Regions from separate parts of the Homo sapiens genome. Here region 1 is linked to region 2. Evidence: fine-mapped expression QTL. A gene starts in region 2. The other region holds a variant in brackets. All regions are shown on one strand. Distances are from middle to middle.

The links. PIP is the estimated chance that this variant, and not a neighbour inherited with it, causes the effect. A credible set is the group of variants that fine-mapping cannot tell apart.
Region 1: its variant is the best candidate, but not a certain one, in a credible set for the expression of ALPL in fibroblasts (GTEx, PIP 0.72).

Annotation. Positions count from the first base shown.
Region 1 is chr1:21,564,734-21,570,093 of GRCh38, reverse strand. ALPL (alkaline phosphatase, biomineralization associated) reads right to left here. Exons shown (of 12, transcript NM_000478.6): 7 at 1,847-1,990. Among named protein-coding and RNA genes, the nearest start is that of LINC02596, 19 kb to the left of the region's middle. RefSeq lists an enhancer at 993-1,577. The variant A/G (reference allele first, on the strand shown) is at 2,280.
Region 2 is chr1:21,506,996-21,512,319 of GRCh38, reverse strand. ALPL (alkaline phosphatase, biomineralization associated) reads right to left here and starts at 2,897. Exons shown (of 12, transcript NM_000478.6): 1 at 2,803-2,897. RefSeq lists enhancers at 1,814-2,383, 2,384-2,954 and a silencer at 2,990-3,089.

The sequences.
Region 1 (5,360 bases), 58 kb before region 2:
CCAGGGAGGCCGTGAGCCCAGACACAGGACCAGGGAGGGCTTCCTGGTGGAGGTGATGTTCTAATGGGTCCCTGGAGGACAAGTGGGAATTGAACAGCCTAGGGTCAGGAAGGCTATTCCAGGGAGGAGGGATCATGGGGCAAAGAAGAGCCAGGCACAGGTCTCCAGGGGCCTTGAGTGCTGACAGGTGTGGGCTGTTTTCTGGAGGCCGTGGAGGGCCAGGGAGGAAGCAAAGCCCCAGCTCTGCTTTGGGGACCCCATCTGGGAGGGGAGATAAAGGCGTGGCTGTTTCCCCAGGGAATAAAGTCCACAGAAAGAAGCCAGCTAGGCCAGGCCTGGAGAGGGCACCATGTGGGCCTGGACCAGGGGTCCCAGCACTACCAAGGATCTGCTGTGTGCCCTTAGAAGACCCCCTGCCTTCTCTTAGCAATGACAGTGGGATCAGTGGCTTTGCAAGCCTCAGGGGCTGTTGTGGGGAGGAGGGCAGAGAGGCTCAGAAAGTGGGGCTCCGCACCCCCCCTCCCAGCCCCTGCTTCCTGGAGGTGGCTCTCCTGTGCTCTCTCCCTCCAGGGTTGTTCCTGTTATTCCCTCTTTACAGATGAGGGCACCGAGGCACACAGACCACGTAGCCACTGAATGGTAAAGGTGAAACTGACTCTAAAACCCACTCTTAAGGCATGATTTTCTAGGGATGTGGGGCCTACACGGGACCTGATACCCAATGTGGCCAGGCTCGGGGCCATGGTGTAGACGCTCTCTCCCCGTCTTAGAGGTCTAGACCGAGTTCCTGGGTAAGCACCCTGCCTGGGCAAGGAGGATGAAGCTCTGGCCCCATGTGCCACGTAGAGAAACTGAGGCTGGTGTCTCTCTGGCTTGAGCTTGGAGGGGGCTCTGGCCCAGCCTGAGCTGACTCAGAAGGGATGGAAAGGGTTCAAAGCCACTCAGTTCCACACCCCCACCATCCCCACGGGGGCCCTTCCCTAGTCCCTACCCCCACCTCGTTCTTGGCCCAGCCTCATCCCACGAGGCCTCCCCAGGGGCCAGTCCTGGAACTTGCAGAAACCCAACCCCAGAGTGACATCAAAGTGGCTGCCAGGCTACTCCCCACTGTCTTCAGCCCTGACCACAGTCATTTCCAGACCCCAGCTGCCCCAGGCCCGCAGGCCAGCAGCTCAGATTTAAAGGGCCAGAGGCCACTCCAAGGAGCTGGAGCTTGGGGTCCTTCCAGAGGTCCCTCCAGCCTCCCTTCCCCAATCTATTCCGTCCTCCAGCCTCCCTTCCCCAATCTATTCCATCCCCCAGCCAAGGGGGACTCACTGTGGAGGGCTTCTCCGCTCCCTCCATGGCTTGCACACTGGGGCCAACCATGTCCTCCCCTGATCCATCCAGCGCTGCCTCCTCCCTCCATCCTCCTACTTGCCCAGAGCTTCTTGGCTCCTCCCTGTCATCTGTCCCCCCAGGGCGCCTGCAGAGCCAGGCGTCCCCCATGCAGGCACACAGCATTCCATGTTTCCTTGGCCATCTGACTCAGCCTCTGTGCCTCACGCATGCCCCGCCAGGTGCCTACATACAATAGGTGCTCAGGGTGACTCAATGTCCACGCAGGTTATTCCCTGGCCCAGCCTCCTCCTCACCATCCGCCTCTCTCTGGTATCCCCTCCAAGGGAAGGAAATGATTAGTCACTGACTATCTACTGCTTGTATATCTCTTAGGCCATTTGAGCCCATGGAGGAAAGATTTCCGATGCCCTTTCTACAGAGGACAACAGAACTTCAGAGCAGGGGTCACACAGCCTCTCCCCATCACAGGCCACCTCTGCAGCCACATGGCCCCAGCACAGGCTACCTTGTATCTCGGTTTGAAGCTCTTCCAGGTGTCAACGAGGTCCAGGCCGTCCAGCCTCGTGCCCCTGGCTTTCTCGTCACTCTCATACTCCACATCAGTTTTATTCTTGGGGTACATGTATTTCCGGCCACCCCCCATGATCACCTAAAAGAGACAGGAGCCATCACTTCTGCAGGGTTCCAAGATGCCCAGAAGCCCCAGTGACCTCGGCTTGGAACCTGGACTCCTGGAGTCCCTGGAGATGGTGTGGACACTTTCCCAGCCTGGTGAGCCAGGCCTCAGTCATCTCTGGGCCTTACTTGTCCAGCGTGGGGAGATGAAATCACGAGTCTATTGGGACGGTGGTTTGGCGCTTCTAGGGATATTGGAGGAGCTGATAACTTACCTTACTTGGCTTCCCGGAATCCACAGAACTCCCACTCGAATAAGAATC[A/G]GACCATTTACAGAGCGTTCCCTGTGTGTCAGGCACTAAGCATTTAAGATACATTCTGACTCAACTTCATACCAAGGCTGCAATAAACCCTGGCCACCTGTTTTCCAACTAAAAAAATGGGCACAGAAATTGGTTTTTTCCCCCGAAGGCCACAGAGCCAGGAAGTGGCAGCATCAGGATTCAAACCCAGGGCTTTTCCGGCTGTGGCACTAGGGCCCTGCTGTATTCGTGCAGCTAAGGGCAGGGACTCCCAGAGCCTCCTCTCCCACGGTGGAAGGCTGAATGCGTGCAGGGAGAGGCTCCAGCCAGGGAGGTCTTTGGGGCAGCCCACAGCTGGGAGCCAGCCCACCGCAGCCTGGGCAAACAGCGGGGCCGGGCCTCACGGCTCTGTAGTCACCACCAGGCTAATTTTACCCACCAGCTGGTGTGTGCGGGCAGACGGACGCGGGACTGTTTGTTTTCCTTGGGAGTCCATGTTTGAAGTTCTGACTATTTTTAAAGTAGGGCCAAGAGCATAACAGCAGCCGCCTGCGGTGACCACCACACTAGTGTTCTCTTGTCACCGCGGGTGCCAGCCCGGGCCACTGCCCCTGGCTGACACCTTGGGAGTGCAGAGCCTGGCTGACACTGGCCCCAGATCCACCATTCCAGGCCTGCATCTCATAGGTCCCTTGCTCTATCCTCCACTCTGTCTCCCACCTTAGATCCTAGGTTTTGTGGAATGCACAGGGGGCCAGGAACACAGGATGGCTGGAGAGGTGGGAAAGGTGCCCCAGGACCAGCCTGGGTCCAGGCCATGGTCATGGCCGTGAGCTTTGAAGTCAGACTTGGGTTTGAACCCTGACTCTATCGACTACTGACCAAGGGCCTGCCACCTAAACTCTGTGAGCCCAGTTTTCCTATCCATAAAATGCGACTGGCCAGGCGCGGTGGCTCATGCCTGTAATCCCAGCACTTTGGGAGGCTGAGGCGGGAGGATCACTTGATGCCAGGAGTTTGAGACCAGCCTGGACAACATGGCAAGACCCTGTCTATACAAATAAAATTTGTTTCGAAACTTAGCCGGGCATGGTGGTACAGGCTTGTGCTCCTAGCTATTCAAGGGACTGAGCCAGGAGGAGCACTTGAGCCCAGGAGGCTGAGACTGAAGTGAGCCATGATCACGCCACTGCACTCCAGCCTGGGCAACAGAGTGAGACCCTGTCTCAAAAATAAAATAAAATAGGCCGGGCGCGATGGCTCACGCCTATAATGCCAGCACTTTGGGAGGCCAAAACGGGCGGATCACCTGAGGTCCAGAGTTTGAGACCAGCCTGGCCAACATGGCGAAACCCCGTCTCTACTAAAAATTTAAAAAAAAAAAATTAGCCGGGCGTGGTGATGTGCGCCTATAATCCCAGCTACTCAGGAGGCTGAGGCAGGACAATCGCTTGAACCCGGGAGGTGAAGGCTGCAGTGAGCCAAGATCGCACCACTACACTCCAGCCTTAGAGACAGAATGAGACTCCGTCTCAAAATAATAATAATAAATAAAATGCAACTAACATCCATCCACAGACCCATCACAGGAGGAAAGGCAGTCACCCAGGGAAGTCCCCAGCACCCAGGGGGTGGCTGCCACTGGAAGGCATTTCTATTGCCAGAAGGAGTGGGGAAACAAGTGGTTCAGAGAGGCAGAGTCCTTGCTCTCAGCTGCAGCCAGGAGCTCAGGGGGCAGGGTGGGCTGGGAGAAGAAGGAGAAGGGGACCCCAGGTCACGGGTCCCTTGCCCCGCCCCCCACAACTGTTCCCACAGAACCTGACCTCTTGGCATCTTCAGAGTGGAAAACGAAGCCCCCAATCTTCCTGCAGGGAGCCTCATCGTTTCCAGCCCGGCAGCGACTTCACACGGGCTCATTAAACTCCCAAATAACAGACTTGCTGTTTGGCTTTGGGGTTTAGGTTTGTGTCTTTCTTTCTTTCTTTCTCTTCTTTCTTTTTTTTTTTTAAGCAACAGTATTTATTTTCAGGGTGGACACCAGGATTTTTGTTTCATGTACAGTCTGGGGACTGGGAGGCTTTTGGGGGGGTGGTGACGGAGAGGCAGGTGGGGCTGGGAGAGAAAGGAAGAGGAGGAAAGAAAGGGATCCTCACACAGGTCCTCCGTCCTCACTCACTCCCTGGCTTGTGCCCCTTGACGTGGCCCCTGCGGCCCCCCCTCCTCATCTCCCACCCCCTCACCTGAAACATCTTCCCTCCCCTCGAATTTCCTTCAAGTTCCTGTCCCCTGCTCAGGCTGTCCCTGACAAACCCCTCTGAGGAGCAGTCCCCATGTAATTATACCCTGTGCCTGTACAACAAATGTTCTCACATCCATGACCTCATCACGGCCTCCCACGGCCCTGGGAGCAAGCAAGTGTGGCTCTCTGTTTCTGCTGCACAGGTGGGGAAACTGAGGCATAGGGAGGGGAAGGAACTCGCCCCAGGCCACATGTCGGGTGAAGGCAAGCCAGGATGAGTGGCTTGGCCTCAGATGTCTGTTCAGTGAAAGGGGCCAACAGCACTGTGTGTCCTGAAAGCGGGTACTTAATCCACCATGCTGGGAAAAGGGCAGACGTGGGTCTCTACTGTGGAGGGGCCAAGTAGCCCCCAGAAATTTGTGGGGGGCAGTGCATGGAGGGCTGAAGGCAGGTGAGTTTGTCTGGTGGTGGAGAGAAAGAGGTGAGGTGTAGCTGGGCAGGGGGGCTTTCTCTGCCCCTCACCGAATCCCCATTCCAGGCTCAAGGGGCAGAAGTCCCCAGATCGCCTCAGCAGTCCCCCACAGTAGGCAATAAAAGCCTGAAAAGGAACGAGCCGGGCATTCTCACTTAAGAACAGAGAGTAAGCGTCACATGGATGACTTCTGTCTCCATGAGTCAGCTCAGTTTGTTGAAGTGTGTTTCAGGGCAAGGACATGTGGCTCCTGCGTAAGTGCCACCACCTTCTGGGCACTCGCTAGGCCTCGGGTCCTGTGCTGAGCTCCACAGGGATTATCTTAATCAGTTCTTGGCATAAGCTTATGAGGCAGGTACAGTTCACAAAGGAGTTGTGAAAGGGAAGCCTC
Region 2 (5,324 bases):
AAGGTGACTTGTCCAGGGTCGCATGGCAGTGCTGGGAATGAACCTTCAGTCTACTGCCCCTAACTGCCCTCTGAAAGTGAGGACATCTCCAGAAGAAAAAAAACAAATCTAACATACCACAAAGCCCAGCTCCAGCCTGCCAAGGACGACGACATGGTGCTGGGAAGCCAAGTCAGCATTCCTGTGGCCACATGGAGATTTCTGAGTGCTGGTTCTCAGCCCAGCTTGCTCACTCTCCCAGCAATGTTCTCTCAGAGCTCTGGGTTTTGTATTAAAAAGCCAAGTCAGACTGATTTCAAGGTGAGAACTCGGGCTCTGCTACTGGATCCTACTCCCTGGATTAAAAGGCCTCATATGCCCAGAGATGGGTACAGCATGGAGATTGCTAGATTTGGAATTCTAGATACGCAGGCTCCAGCCCCAGCTCCTCAGGTAGCATCTGTGTGCCTCTGGGCAACTCACTTCCCCTTTCCAAGATCATATCCAGCTTGCAGGGAATGTTGGGTATGTAAGTCATGGGACAGAACAGGGCTGAGTTTGGTCCTGAGCTAGGACACGGTGAGGCACAAGAACAGGCAGAGGGCAGGAAGCGCTGCAGAGATGATGGCTCCAGGGCTGATCTCATCATGGAGCTCTGCGCTCCCAGCCCAGGCTGTGTTTAGGATGGCGACAGAAGGTGGCATCTGAGTGTGAGCAAAGAGGGCACCATGCCACCCCACATGTGTAGCCCAACAGGATGGGAAGGGCCTGGGCAGAAGTGGGTAACAGGTTCAGAGGCAGGGTAGGCACATAACCCAACTTCCAGTCTCCGCATTGCATTTTCTGCTGAGAAGAGAGCTGAGGATAGCCAGGATTTTCTTAAGCACAGGTACCAGCTTAAACCCTTCGCAAGCATTCATCATATCTAGACCTCACCACTGGTAGGCACTATTGATCTCCACAGCTTATGGGAGGAGGCCGAGGCACAGAGAGGGAACAGAACTGATCCCAGGTCCCACAGCAAGGCTGCCTTTGCTAAAGTGAGGGCCAAAGGTTGGCCAATCCATTTTACAGGTGATTGCGTCTTAATCTCCTTCCTTATGAATAGCTTGATTTCAAGTCTACACTGTGAATTCTGACAGTTTCAAAGCCTGAAAGAATTTTGTTATGCAAACATCCAATCCAGAAGAGGGCTTTTGGCTGATTTACTGTGGCATTCCCGGCACCTAGAACAGAGCTTGGCACACGGCGGATGCTTAAGTATTTGCTGAATGAAGATAGCATCTTGTTCTGGCCTCAGTTCAGTTTTATTCCTCACAATAGTCCCGAAAGGGGAATACACCCCTTTTTACAAATGGGCACATGGACCGGGATCATCACTCAGCCTAGTCTTCACCAGTTGGGATGTTGAGAAGCTGTGTCCAGGGGCCTCTTCTGAGGGAATTCACAGGTATTCAGTTAAAGAAAGAAAAAGGTGACACAGGAACAAGATGCATGGGGCCAGGGAGTGGGATGGCTGGGGCAGGACAGCGTGGGGACACCCACAGGTGGGGAGGACTAAACAGTTGGAAAGAGCAAGACTGGAGAGTGGAGGAAGAGCGGGCTGAGCCCAGGAGGAGCCGGAAGACAAAACCAAGGCTCAGCCCCCTATCTCTTAGGCAACACAGTGGGAGCAGGACGCTAGGGCTGCAGAGTTTGGAGTCTGGATTCAAACCCTGGTCCCACCACTTACTTAAATTGTCTAAGCCTCAGTTTCCCCATTTGTAAAATGAAATGATGTACATGAGATGTCAGAGCAGGTCCCTCTACGCACGGTAGGCCTTCAAAAAACAGTTGCAGTATCTACACTGAGGCTGGGACCCAACCCCTGCCTCCCTGGGCAGCTGGGCCCACCTGAGCGGTCTGACTTTTTCCCAGGGCCCAAAGCCCTTCCTGGCCCAAGAATCGCCCCCTCTTTTGATCTCAAGGAATTTCACCCTCCACCCAGAGGCCTTTGTAAAGGCCCCGCCTTCGACCCCATTATGTGTTGAAAAAGAGTCATAAGGCACAATGGGGAGTGGGGGAGGCTTTCCTCGGCCTCCTGCCTTTCTGCTGAGACCTGCGTTTAACCCTTTCTTACCAAGACTGGGCAGGGAAGCAGCCCTGGGAGGCCCACCTCGCAAAGCCTAAAGGGGGCGGCAGGCTCCTTCGGCTTCGCGGGCTCCAGAGCTTTGCCCCACAGCTGCGGTGCCCACAGTGGGTGCCCACACTTTGACACCCACGCGGGTGTCCTCTGTCTCCTCCCGCCACGCCCCCCATTCCAAGCGCCTCCTGCCCTCTCCTCCTCCCAAACCAAACTGCTTTAGACCCCACCGGGTCAGGTGGGACGCCTGGGAGGGCGCCAGGCCACGAGGCCTTGGGGTTGGCAGCCCAGGTCTCTAGAGCTACGGCTAAGGAGGCACCAGGAGGGGCTCAGTCACGGGGCACCAAGGGCAGGTGCCCAGACAGAGCGCAGGGTCCCAGGCAGCGGCTCGGGAGGTAGGAGACCCTGGGACTGCAGGGCGGTCCCGAGCGCGGTCCCCTGAGTTCGCCGGCTCCGCGGGCGCCACGTCCAATCTCCTGTCCCGCCCAGAGCGCGCGCCGGGAGCTTGGGATGCGCGGGAGGACAGGGGCAGGACCAATTGCAGGGCGTCCCGAATGGGCTGCTGTGGGCGGCGTGGCGCTGGAGACCCCGGCCCTGCCATTAAAGTTCAACCACGGGGCCAGCGGAGGATGCAGAAGGGGATGGACCACGTCCGCTGGGGCCCTGGGGAACCAGGGCGCGGGGCAGCGTCGAATCCTTACCTGCGCAGAGCACTGGCGAGGGTCCGTCCAGGCACAAGCGCGTGGGAGCACGGAGCCAGGATAGCGGGCGCGGAGTGGCGGGAGCGCAACGCGGCCCGGGCCACCACCCCCGCCGCCTTATAAAGGCGGCCGCGGGGCCCGAGTGAGGCCCGGGCAGCCCGCCCCCTCCCCCGCCCCCGGCCCCAACCCCTCCCCAGCCCGGCCCCGGCCCCGCCCCCGGCCCGAGCCCCGCGCCCCGCGGGCCGGTCGTGCCACGAGGCCAGGGCGCCCCCTGCCGGGAGCGGAGCTAGGAACGGGCTGGGGTGACGCGGCCCTGGCGTCCCTCGCCCGCCCCGCACTCTCGGTCTCTCTGCCTCCGGGCTGCCCCAGCCCAGCCCTTCCTCTCTCAGCGAGCCTGGGCTCTGACCTGCTCCTTGCGCGCGTCTCCTGTTTTGTCTTTACCGTCGGCATCTTCCTTCTGCGTCTCTTGGTGGGAGTCTTTGTCTCCACCCGTCTCTTTGTCTGCCTTCCTCTCTGGCGTCTGTCTCTGTGTCTGTCAACATATCTGGCTTTCTCTGGGTCTCTGTCTTTATCCGTCTCTGCCCACGTGTCCCTGTCTCTCTGTCTCTGTCCACGTGCACCTCTGACTCTGCACCCCCACCCCCGCTTCCCTGCCCGTGGGCTGCCTCCCTGGCTACCGCAAGAAGAAGCAGAAGGGGACCTCGGAGGGGTGGCATCTGGAGGGAAACCACCCCCTAGACAGGGGCCCTTCCCTCTTTCTCTCTTTAGAGACGTAAAGGGCCCGCAGGTGTCCGGCTATGTCCCAGCCAGAGCCCCAGGACATGCTCCCTGGATGCCAGAGGAGGGGCAGGCACTTCCCAGGCAGTTGAGTCAGACAGCTCAAGTTCAAAACTCTGCTCTGGTGACCTTGGCCAAGTCACTTGACCTATGTGGACCAGCCTGCCCCTCTTTAACAGGCAGACACCATCTCCCCTGGCCTCTCGCTGGTGCGAGAGTCATATGAGACAGTGCTTGAAAACTACAGAGGAAACGCTAAAATCCCGGATAGACGGGAGCCAGGGACAGAGGCTGGGTGCTACAGGCCCTGCTCCCGCTCCTGGGGAACCAGCTCTGATGGAATAACCACTCCCTTTCCTCTGAGCACTGAATTCTCTGGGCAACTTCGCAGTGAGAAGTCCGCAGGCTCTGTTTGAATGCCTCCAGCGACAGAGCTCACTGACTCCTAACAGGAGGGTCTTCTCAGTGGCCCTTGGGAAAATGTCTGCCCAGAGAACCAATTTTAGCCAGGTCAGGCAACCTCTCTTCCACTCACTCCATGCCAGTCTCAGGGCCAGGCACTGTGCATGCATTAACTTCCAAAAGCTCCATTTTCCAGAGGAGAAAACTGAGGCCCAGAGAGATCATGTGACTTCTCAGTAAGGTTGGAGCCAGAACTGGGGCCTGGTGCCAGAAACCAAGAATGTCTTTGTATTTATTTTTGTTTCTTTTGTATTTTTGGTTGATACTGTTTATTTAGAGGCGTGACATAGGTTCCCTTTTCAGATAAGTTTATGTTTTTTAAAAGTGAGTCAAAATATTGAGTAAATACTATTTATTTATGTATTTCATGGGTTGGGTGATATGGCAAAAATCATGGAGGTAGCAAATGAATGGAGTTTAGGAAATACCATCCTCTGTAAGAAATTGCAGGTGAAAGCACCCAGCACTGGGCCTAAAACATGGGAGGGGCTCAATACTTGCTCACAAATGCCAAGGAAGGGTTTAAGGATTCCAGGAGACTTAAGATGGTATCATCATCAGTGAGCCAGGGGCAAGTCCCCAGGCATGGAAAATCTGCCTGTTGCTTGGACAGAGGCTGGGAGGCAGAGCCAGAGGGAATTGGAGGCACCCATTGCACCTATCATGGGGCCAGCACCCCTGACTTTTTTTTTTTTTTTTTTTTGAGACAGGGTCCCACTCTATTGCCTAGGCTGGAATGCAGTAGCATGATGTCAGCTCACTGCAGCCTCGACCTCCCGGGCTCAAGTGATCTTCCCACCTCAGCCTCCCCAGCAGCCAGGACTACAGGTGTGCACCACCACGCCCGGCTAATTTTTGTATTTTTTTGTAAAGAACAGGGTTTTGCTATGTTGCTCAGGCTGGTCTCGAACTCCTAAGCTCAAGTGATCCCCCTGCCTCCTTATCCCAAAGTGATGGGATTACAGGCATGAGCCACCACACCCGACCCTATCCCTGACTTCTGATCTCCCCAAAGCTATGAGGGACGGGCACTTCTGGTTGAGCCACATGGCCAGCATTAGGTCCCCCATGTCTGTGATTTGCCCTCAAGTCCCTCCACCTCGGGATTTCAGGGATTGGTTATCAGCAGCAGGGACTATACTGCTTGGCCAGCCCTGCCACCTTCCACCCTCAAACCCTCTTACTCTGCTCCTGGGCTGGGTCCCTCAAGGAGAATTCAACTGAGATGGGGCATCCAGCAGCCCTTGCCTCCCCTGCTCCCCGGGTGCCCCTCCTCCTGGCTC